2 separate regions of the Homo sapiens genome follow, and region 1 is linked to region 2. The links come from fine-mapping of genetic effects on gene expression. A gene starts in region 2. The other region holds a variant in brackets. All regions are shown on one strand. Distances are between the middles of the regions. Region 1 has its middle 8.7 kb from the start of GNG7. Region 2 holds the start of SLC39A3 (solute carrier family 39 member 3).

The links.
Region 1: its variant is fine-mapped to the expression of SLC39A3 in whole blood (TOPMed, PIP above 0.99).

Annotation. Positions count from the first base shown.
Region 1 is chr19:2,708,705-2,714,073 of GRCh38, reverse strand. No RefSeq gene overlaps it. Among named protein-coding and RNA genes, the nearest start is that of GNG7, 8.7 kb to the right of the region's middle. RefSeq lists an enhancer at 3,504-3,583. The variant G/A (reference allele first, on the strand shown) is at 2,754.
Region 2 is chr19:2,737,696-2,743,064 of GRCh38, reverse strand. It overlaps SLC39A3 (solute carrier family 39 member 3), which reads left to right and starts at 3,048. Exons shown (of 3, transcript NM_144564.5): 1 at 3,048-3,120. RefSeq lists enhancers at 2,767-2,816, 3,517-3,566 and silencers at 2,877-3,276, 3,685-3,952.

The DNA.
Region 1 (5,369 bases), 29 kb after region 2:
AGGAGGTGGTGGGTGGAGGAAGTGAGGGATGGGATGAAGGGTGGAGGAGGTGATGGGTGTAGGAAGTGAGGGATGGGATGAAGGGTGGAGGAGGTGGTGGGTGTAGGAAGTGAGGAATGGGATGAAGGGTGGAGGAGGTGGTGGGTGTAGGAAGTGAGGAATGGGATGAAGGGTGGAGGAGGTGACGGGTGTAGGAAGTGAGGGATGGGATGAAGGGTGGAGGAGGTGGTGGGTGTAGGAAGTGAGGGATGGGATGAAGGGTGGAGGAGGTGACGGGTGTAGGAAGTGAGGGATGGGATGAAGGGTGGAGGAGGTGGTGGGTGTAGGAAGTGAGGGATGGGATGAAGGGTGGAGGAGGTGACGGGTGTAGGAAGTGAGGGATGGGATGAAGGGTGGAGGAGGTGGTGGGTGTAGGAAGTGAGGAATGGGATGAAGGGTGGAGGAGGTGACGGGTGTAGGAAGTGAGGGATGGGATGAAGGGTGGAGGAGGTGGTGCGTGGAGGAAGTGAGGGATGGGATGAAGGGTGGAGGAGGTGATGGGTGTAGACAGTGATGGATGGGATGAAGGGTGGAGGAGGTGATGGGTGTAGGAAGTGAGAGATGGCATTAAGGGTGGAGGAGGTGGTGGGTGTAGGAAGTGAGGGATGGGATGAAGGGTGGAGGAGGTGATCGGTGTAGACAGTGACGGATGGGATGAAGGGTGGAGGAGGTGATGGGTGTAGGAAGTGAGGGATGGGATGAAGGGTGGAGGAGGTGGTGGGTGTAGGAAGTGAGGAATGGGATGAAGGGTGGAGGAGGTGGTGGGTGTAGGAAGTGAGGTATGGGGTGAAGGGTGGAGGAGGTGATGGGTGTAGGAAGTGAGGTATGGGGTGAAGGGTGGAGGAGGCGATGGGTGTAGGAAGTGAGGGATGGGATGAAGGATGGAGGAGGTGATGGGTGGAGGAAGTGAGGGATGGGAGGAAGGGTGGAGGAGGTGGTGGGTGTAGAAAGTGAGGGATGGGGTGAAGAGTGGAGGAGGGGACCTGTGTAGGAAGCGAAGGATGGGATGGTGGTGGGGAGGTGGAGGGAGTGGGTTGAGGACATGCAGCAGGGGAGGCAAGGCAGGACCCGTCTGGGACTCTGCTTGGAGATGTCTTTATGTGGCTTTTTTCTAGGGTGTTGGTTTCCAGATTCACTCTGTGCACATTAGCTGGGGACATCCTCCCAGCTGGACTTTCTGTGAACGTGGACAATTTCCTTGCAGGCCCAGTGGCGTTGGGGCAGAGGAGACTGTATTAGTCCATTCTTGGAATGCTATAAAGAAATACCCAGGCCGGGCACGGTGGCTCATGCCTGTAGTCCCAGCACTTTGGGAGGCCGAGAAGGGCATATTACCTGAGACCAGAAGTTTGAGACCAGCCTGGCTCACATGGCAAAACCCTGTCTCTACTAAAAATACAAAAAATTAGCTGGGCGTGGTGGCGGGAGTCTGTAATCCCAACTACTAGGGAGGCTGAGGCAGGAGGATCACTTGAACCCGGGAGGCGGAGCTTGCAGTGAGCTGAGATCGTGCCACTACACTCCAGCCTGGGTGACGAGAATGAAACTCTGTCCAACCCCCCGCCGCCCCACAAAAAGAAAAGAAATACCTGATACAGGTAAATGATAGAGAAAAGAGGTTTAATTGGCTCATAGTTCCACAGCCTGTGCAGGAAGCATGGCAGCAGCTGCTTCTGGGAGGCCTCAGGAAACTTACGGTCATGGGGGAAGGCAGAGGGGAGCAGGCAGGTCACTCGGCCGGAGCAGGAGCACAGGGGAGGAGGTGCCATACCGGATCTTGTGAGAACTCTATTATGAGACAGGACTGAGGGGTGGATCCATTCATGAGGATCCACCGTCATGATCCAGTCGCCTCCCATCAGGCACTACCTCCAACACGGGACTACAATTCAACATGAGATTTGGGTGGGGACAGAGAGCCAAACCATGTCAGGGGACCTTCCCTGCTTGTCCCATCTGCCAGCCCAGCCCCCACCCCTCACCCCTAACCCAGAGCAGGCTGGGGCAGGGATCTGACCTGAAGAGGTAAGGCGTTGTTCAGGACCAGACTGGAAGGAAGGAAGAGCTGAGACATCATTCATTCACGTATTCATTGGTTCATTCATTCATTCATTCATCCAGTATGTAAGAGGCACCACTCTATGCCTGGTCCTGCCCTGATGCTGGGGACACAGCAGTGACAGACACCAGCCCCAGAGCCCCCTGCCTGCTCAGAGAGCATAACCCACTGGGGACGATGATTCCCTATGAAGAAGTGGATCAAATCATCGCAGACACATGCTCCCTACGCAGAAGATAAACCTGCATCACAAAAGTGACGTGGCTGGGAGTCCCAGGCCTTCTGAGGTCTGACTCAGAAGCTGACGTGTTTGCTGATGTGGGAAGCGGGGGAGAGGCCAGCTCCAAGGGGACCTGGGACGGAGCACTGGACAGGGGGACCAGCAAAGGTGTCAAAGCAGGAACAGGTGAGGCCTGGCTGGGAGGAGTGGAGGGAGGAGAGGGAAGGTGGCCAGTGAAGTTGAAGGTCGCCAGCAGGGGTCAAACAGTGCCTGGTGGGCTGTGGGAAGAGTTTGGACTTTCACGAGAAGGATGCCAGGGGGTTACGGGAACATTTCAGCATTTCCCTCAAGAGACCTCGAGGGCCCCGCTGTACCGTGTACTTACCGCAGCTGGCTGAGGAGGTCGGACAGGCACTAAGAGCCCTATTTTACAAA[G/A]GCAGGAACCCACAGGACCTCAGCTTCCCTATCTGTGTAATGTGAATGTATGGTTGGAGTCTGGCTTGCCAGGATCCCAGGAGGCGGGAGAGGGCCGTGGTTAGTGATATGTCCTCCAGGTCAGATGTGAAGATGGTGGGATCCCAGCTGCAGCTGCAGGGAGCATAGCACCTGCCTGGGACCCCCTCCTCTATTTCTCCAAGTGACCATGGGTTTTGAGACACCCTCTTTTAAAAATTATTTTTTTTTTGAGACGGAGTCTTGCTCTGTCGCCCAGGCTGGAGTGCAGTGGTGTGATCTCGGCTTCAAACAATTCTCCTGCCCCAGCCTCCCGAGTAGCTGGGATTACAGACGCCCACAACCATGCCCGGCTAATTTTTGTGGTTTTAATAGAGATGGGGTTTCACCATGTTGGCCAGGCTGGTCTCAAACTTCTGACCTCAGGTGATCCACCTGCCTTGGCCTCCCAAAGCGCTGGGATTACAGGCATGAGACACCGTGCCTGGCCTTCATTGCAATTTTTAAAACGTTTTATTTATTAATAATTATTGATTCACGGGAAGGTACAAGGAGGTCTGATGCACCCTGCACCCAGCCCCCCAGCTATGTTTACATCTTGCATAACTGCAGTATAACCTCAAAACCAGCACAGTGGAAGGATGCAAGCTTCACTGGATTTGCATGCACTCATCTGAGTGTGTGAGTGTGTGTGTGGTTTATGCAGTTTTATCACACGCATAACTTCCTCTAAACACCGTCACGAGATACTTTTTTTTTTTTTTTTTGGTCAGGGTCTTGCTCCGTCGCCCAGGCTGGAATGGTGCAGTGGTGTGAACACAGCTCACTGCAGCCTCAATCTCTTGGGCTCAAGTGATCCTCCCACCTCAGCGCCCCCCGAGTAACTGAGTAGCTGGGACTACAGACACATGCACGTCACCACATGTGGCTAATTTTCTTTCTTTCTTTTTTTTTTGAGACGGGGTCTGGCTCTGTCGCCCAGGCTGGAGTGCAGTGGTGCGATCTCGGCTCACTGCAAGCTCCGCCTCCCAAGTTCACGCCATTCTCCTGCCTCAGCCTCCCGAGTAGCTGGGACTACAGGCGCCCGCCACCACGCCCGGCTAATTTTTTGTATTTTTAGTAGAGACGGGTTTCACCGTGTTAGCCAGGATGGTCTCAATCTCCTGACCTCGTGATCCGCCCACCTCGGCCTCCCAAAGTGCTGGGATTGCAGGAGTGAGCCAGCACGCCCGGCTAATTTTCTTATATATATATTTGTAGATATGGTGGGGGGGTCTTGCCATGTTGCCCAGAATGGTCTCGAACTCCTGGGCTCAACGGATCTTCCTGCTTCGGCCTCCCAAAGTGCTGGGATGACAGGTGTAAGCCACTGCACAAACAAGACACTTAAGCGACACCAAAGACTCCCTCGTGATATCCCTCCTAGCCACGCTAGCCACCCTCACTAATGCAATATGTATGTATTTGAGAGTCTTGCTCTGTTGCCCAAGCTGGAGTGCAGTGGCATGATCTCTGCTCACTGCAACCTCTACCTGCCAGGTTCAAGCAATTCTCCTGCCTCAGCCTCCCGAGTAGCCGGGATTATAGGCATGCACCACCACGGCCCAGCTAATTTTTATTTTTTGTATTATTAGTAGAGATGGGGGTCTCACTATGTTGGCCAGTCTGGTCTTGAACTCCTAGCCTCAAGCAATCCTCCCATCTTGGCCTTTCAAAGTGCTAGGATTACAGGCATGAGCCACTGCACCTGGTCCTAATGCAATATTTTTTTAAAAATTGACATGAGTACAAAAAATCTGCATTGAACAAAATTTTAAAGTCCCAAATAAAGACAGCATCCAACCTTCCCCTGAGAGCCTCAGGCAAAAGGAAAAATGTGTGCATGTGTACATATACCAAATATTTAAGCATCTTTACATATCTTTCTATTTTTTTGAGACTGTCTCAATTTGTTGTCCAGGCTGGAGTGCAGTGGTGCAGTCTCGGCTCACTGCAACCTCCTCCTTTCCAGTTCAAGCGATTCTCCTGCCTCATCCTCCAGAGTAGCTGGGACTACAGGTGTGTGCCACTGTGCCCATCTAATTTTCTTTTTTCTTTTCTTTTCTTTTTGTTTTTTTTGAGATGGAGTCTTGCTGTGTTGCCAGGCTGGAGTGCAGTGGCACGTCTCGGCTCACTGCAACCTCCGCCTCCCGGGTTCAAGCGATTCTCCTGCCTCAGCCTCCTGAGTAGCTGGGACTACAGGTGCGTGCCACCACACCCAGCTAATTTTTGTATTTTTAGTAGAGATGGGGTTTCACCATGTTGGCAAGGCTGGTCTCGATCTCTTGATCTCGTGATCCACCTGCCTTGGCCTCCCAAAGTGCTGGGATTACCGGCGTGAGCCACCGCGCCCGGCCCAGCACCTTTATATATCTGTATGCATTTTTAGTGGTTGATTTTTTCCAGAAGTAGATTTTGAAAATATGACTGATGATTTAGTAGGATTTGCTTCTACTAAAACTAGGACAGTAAAATTATAATAAAGTCTATTTGGACATAAAGAAACTTAATAATAACATTGTAAAAAGACACATGACATTGTGAGTTTGAATACAACAT
Region 2 (5,369 bases):
CACCCTCCAAAATATTTCTCAAATTCACCCACTGTCCTTTCTCCTGTCAATGCCCTCAGCTAAACTACCGTCAAGTCTTTTCTTAGAAATAGAGATAGGGTCTCACTATGTTGCCCAGGCTGGTCTCGAACTCCTGGGCTCAAGCGATCTTCCTGCAATGGCTTCCCAATGTGCTAGGATTACAGGTGTGCGCCAAGGCACCCAGCCCAACTCTTGCCCAGAGGGCTCTGAAGTAGTCTCCCTGCTTCCATTCTTGCTTCTCTATAATTCAGCCTTTCTTTACACACGAGTCAAAATAATCTTAAGAATTAAAATTAGATGACAACCTTCACCTACTTAAAATCCTTCAATGAATCACACTGTAATTACGGTAAAATCCAAGTTCCATAGCACGGTCTATGGGACTGTCCCTAATCTCCCATCTCCCTACTGCTCACGAACATTCAGCCAGGCTGGCTTTCCAACTCCTCAAATGCAGCAAGCCCTTCTCCATCTTTTTGTCAACTATCCTCTCTTCTCTCCCCACTTCTCAGTACTTTTTTTTCTTTTTTTTTTTTTTTTTTGAGACGGAGTCTTGCTCTGTCGCCCAGGCTGGAGTGCAGTGGCATGATCTCGGTTCACTGCGACCTCCACCTCACAGGTTCAAGCGATTCTCCTACCTCAGCCTCCCGAGTAGCTGGGATTACAGGCGCCCACCACCACGCCCTGCTAATTTTTATATTTTTGGTACAGACAGGGTTTCACCATGTTGGCCAGGCTGGTCTTGAACTCCTGACCTCAAGTGATCCACCCACCTCAGCCTCCCAAAGTGCTGGGATTATAGGTGTGAGCCACCACACCTGGCCTTCTCAGTACATTTGACTTGGCTAATTCCTGCACAGAAGTCTCTCTCATTCTTTCTTCACAGAACTTAGTACAACCTATAGTTTTTCTAGTATGTATGTGTATTAGTTACCTACTGCCATATGACAAATTTTCCCCCAAACTTAGTGCCAGCAGGCATTGTGGCTCATGCCTGTAATCTCAGCACTTTGGGAGGCTGAGGTGGGAGGGTTTCCTGAATCCAGGAGTTCAAGACTGGCCTGTGTGACATTAGGTAAAAAATTAGCTGGGCATGGTGGCACATGCTCCCAGCTACTCGGGAGGCTGAGGTGGGAGGACTGCTTGAGCCCAGGAGGTCATGGCTGCAGTGAGCTGTGATTGCACCACTGCACTCCAGCCTGGGTGATGGGGCAGGACCCTGTCTCAAAATACAAGCAAACAAACACAAAACTAAGTGGCTAGAACAGCATGTGTTATCTCAGTTTCTGTGGGTGAGGAATTCAGATGCAGTTCATATGGGTCTTCTGTTTTCAGGGTCTTTGTTTTTCTTTCTTTCTTCTTCTTCTTCTTCTTTTTTTTTCTTTTGAGACAGGGTCTCACTCTGTTGCCCAGGCTGGAGTGTAATGGTAATGATTTCAGCTCGCTGTCACCTCTGCCTCCTGGGTCCAAGTGATTCTGATGCCTCAGCCTCCTTAGTAGCTGGGACTACAGGTGCCCGCCACCATGCCTGGCTAATTTTGGTATTTTTAGTAGAGATGGGGTTTTGCCGTGTTGGCCAGGCTAGTCTCAAACTCCTGACTTTAAGTGACCTGCCTACCTCGGCCTTCCAAAGTGCTGGGATTATAGGCATGAGCTACCACATGCAGCCCTGTTTTAGGGTGTTTCAAAGGCTGCAATTGAAGTGAAGCAGTCATCCAAAGGCTCAACTGGGGCAGGACCCTCTTCCATGATCACGTTCATGGCTGTTGGTAGCATTTGGTTCCTTATGGACGCTTGTGCTGAGGGTCTCATTGCCTTGCTGACTGTTGGCTGGAGGACACCCTCAGTTCCTTTCCCTCTGGATCTCTCCAGCATCTTAGCTTGCTTTGTCAAGACACGTAGGCTGAGAAGGCGAGAGACAGGCTCTGCTGGCAAAACAGAAGTCACAATCTCTCATAGCCTAATCGCAGAATGACATCCCATTCATTTGCCATTTTCTATTTGTTAGAATCAAGTCATCAGGCCAAGCGCAGTGGCTCATGCCTGTAATCCCAGCACTTTGGGAGGCCAAGGTAAGAGGATCACCTGAGGTCAGGAGTTCAAGACCAGCCTGGCCAACATGGTGAAACCCCGTCTCTACTAAAAACACAAAAATTAGCCGGCATAGTGGCACACGCCTATAATCCCAGCTACTCGGGAGGCTGAGGCAGGAGAATCGCTTGAACACGGGAGTCGGAAGTTGCAGTGAGCCAAGATCGCGCCATTGCACTCCAGCCTGAGTGACAAGAGCGAGACTCTGTCTCAAAAAAAACCTTTTTTTTTTTTTTAGAGATGGGGTCTCACTATGCTGCCCAGGCTGGCCTTGAACTCCTGGACTCAAGCGATCCTCCCGCCTCGGTCTCTTAAAGTGCTGAGATTACAAGTGTGAGCCACTGCGCCCTGCCAAGATTTGGTTTTTAACTTACGCGTTACCTCCTATACTTATTTTTTCATGGTTTGAACATGTAACATCTACTTTCTTAGCAATTTTGCAGTATGCAATGCATTGTTACGAGCTGTAGCCACCATGATGTACAGTCGATCTCTTGGACTTACTCCTCCTGCCTATCAACAGAGATTTGTTGAAGGGATGAATCTGCTTCTTCAGCCGTCGGTAAGGGGATCAGCAGCGAGGACGCTGAGAGAGGAGCCGCCTCCGTTGGAAATCCCTTCCCATCCACCTCCAAGCCTCTTTCCAAGCGGGATTCAGCACCAGGCGCCCCTGGACAGCTCTGGAAACCCAACCCTGCCGGAACCGTTCCTCGCCAATCCGGGTTTCCCGCCGGGGCCGCTTGGTGGCTGCGCCCGCCGCTCAGCGGGAGGAAACCCCTTTCCTGTGCCGGTAGGAGAGGTGGAGTCGCATATGAGTGGCAGGTTTCGCAGCCAATAGTATGGAAAGTTCTGCCAGCGGGTCTCGGGGAGGCCAATGGGCAGGGGCGTGGGCGGGGCGTGGACCAGCCGCGCCGAGCGGGGCCTCTCCGGGCCGCGTCTGTGGGGTCGAGACTGCGCGGCCGTTGGGCGTGCAGCGGCGCCAGTCGGCGGACGAGGGGCCCCCGGGAGGTAGGTGCGGGCAGAGAGAGGACCTGGGGCGGCGGGGCGGGGCGGCGCTGAGCGGCCGGGGGTCTGTTGGACTCTACCCGCACGTTAGCCGAGGCCCGTCTCCGGTGCCCGGTAGCGCGAGGCACACAGAAGGCGCTCAATAAGTGCTGATTGAATGAATGAGCCCGTGCCCTCCTCATCCCGGCCCGAGCAGCCTCCGGTTTGAGAGCGTGCAGGCCACCCTCACCTTCACTGTACAGACTGAGGTATCCAGATGCCGGACAGGTCTTTATTGGGCGCCTACTGTGTGCCTGGGTGGCTCTGCGCTGGGTGCAGCTGGCCCTGAGCAAGACAGACAGCCTGGTCCCGCCCAGCTCACCGCCGGGGGGGAGGGACGACTTTAAATGACTTAAAATAATGTAATTCCTAGCTCCCTCTGTAGCACAAAATAAAAGAAAATAACACCAGGGAAGGGGGCGGGGAGAGCTCTGAGTGGAGACATCTGAGCAGTGACCCGAAGACCTGAATGCAGTGAGGTAGCGGGGCCATGAGGCGCTTGGGGCTGATGGTGGGGGAGAAAACCCAGTTGGGGAAAACTCAAGGACAGGGGAGGAGCTGAGATTCCTCCTAAGAACGGTGACATTTTGGGGTCCAGGGTGAAACCGACTTCACTTTGGCCCATTGCATCAGGTAAAATGCGGCCCTTATCAGTGGCCACACGCTTCCCCTCGTCCATGTGTTCAGCCAGCGGTTTTTGAGTATCTGTTCTGCAGCAGGCCTTCCGGCGGGTACAGGGATATGGTTTAGGGCAGGAGTCAGCCAGGGGCAGAGAGGGAGGCCCTTTTTTTTTTTTTTTTTTTTTTTTTGAGACGGAGTCTTGCTCTGCAGCCCAGGCTGGAGTACAATGGCGCGATCTCGGCTCACTGCAAGCTCCACCTCCTGGGTTGAAGCAATTCTCCTGCCTCAGCCTCCCGAGTAACTGGGATTACAGGCACGTACCACCATGCCCAGCTAATTTTTTTTTTTTTTGAGACAGAGTCTTACTCTGTCACCCAGGCTGGAGTGCAATGGCTTGATCTTGGCTCACTGCAACCTCCACCTCCTGGGTTCAAGTGATTCTCCTGCCTCAGCCTCCCAAGTAGCTGGGATTACAGGTGCCCACTACCACACCCAGCTAATTTTTGTATTTTTAGTAGAGACAGTGTTTCACTGTGTTGGCCAGGCTGGTCTTGAACTCTCGACCTCAGGTGCTGGTCTCGAACTCTCGACCTCAGGTGATCTGCCCACCTCAGCCTCCCAAAGTGCTGAGATTACAGGTGTGAGCCACCACTCCCAACCGAGGGAGGCCCTTTTGAGGGGTCCTGGATGCAGAGAAGCAAGAAAGAAGAAGGAGGCCTCGCTGGAAGGTCAGGGGAAAGAGAGCAGTGTTCCAGGTGGAGAGAGGAGAACCCATGCAGAGGTCCTGAGGCACGAGCAAGCTTGGCACAGAAAGGACCAGTGAGGGCCGAGGCGAGGCAGGAGCTTGTCATGCAGAGCTTCAGCCTCAGGGTACAGAGTTTAGACTTTATTTCGGGGCATGGGGAAGCCATGGACCACCACCATCCAATAGCATGTTCTGCAGTGATGAGAGTGTTCCCTTTGCTGTCAAATACGGTAACCACAGAAGTCAAGTAGGCTTGTGTGACTACTGAGCGCTTGAAATATGGCCAGGGAGACTGAGGAGCGGAATTTTGTATTTTATTTAGTTTTTTTTTTTTTTTTTTTTTGAGATGGAGTTTTGCTCTTGTTGCCCAGCCTGGAGTGCGGTGGTGCCATCTTGGCTCACTGCAACCTCTGCCTCCTGGGTTCAAGCGATTCTCTTGCCTCAGCCTCCAGAGTAGCTGGGATTACAGGTGCCTGCCACCACGGCCGGCTAATTTTTGTATTTTTGGTAGAGACGGCGTTTCACCATGTTGTCCAGGCTGGTCTCGAATTCCTGACCTCAGGTGATCCACCCACCTCGGCCTCCCAAAGTTCTGGGATTGCAGGTGTGAGCCACTACACCCAGCCTGGATTTTTTTTAATTTTGATGAACTTTTTTCTTTTTTTGAGACAGTGTATTAGTCAGGGTTCTCTAGAGGGACAGAACTAATGGAATAGTTATATATATAAAGGGAAGTTTATTAAGTATTAATTGCACACGATTACAGGGTCTCACAATACATTGTCTGCAGATTGAGGAGCAAAGAGAGCCAGTCCGAGTTCCAAAACTGAAGAACTGGCCAGGTGCA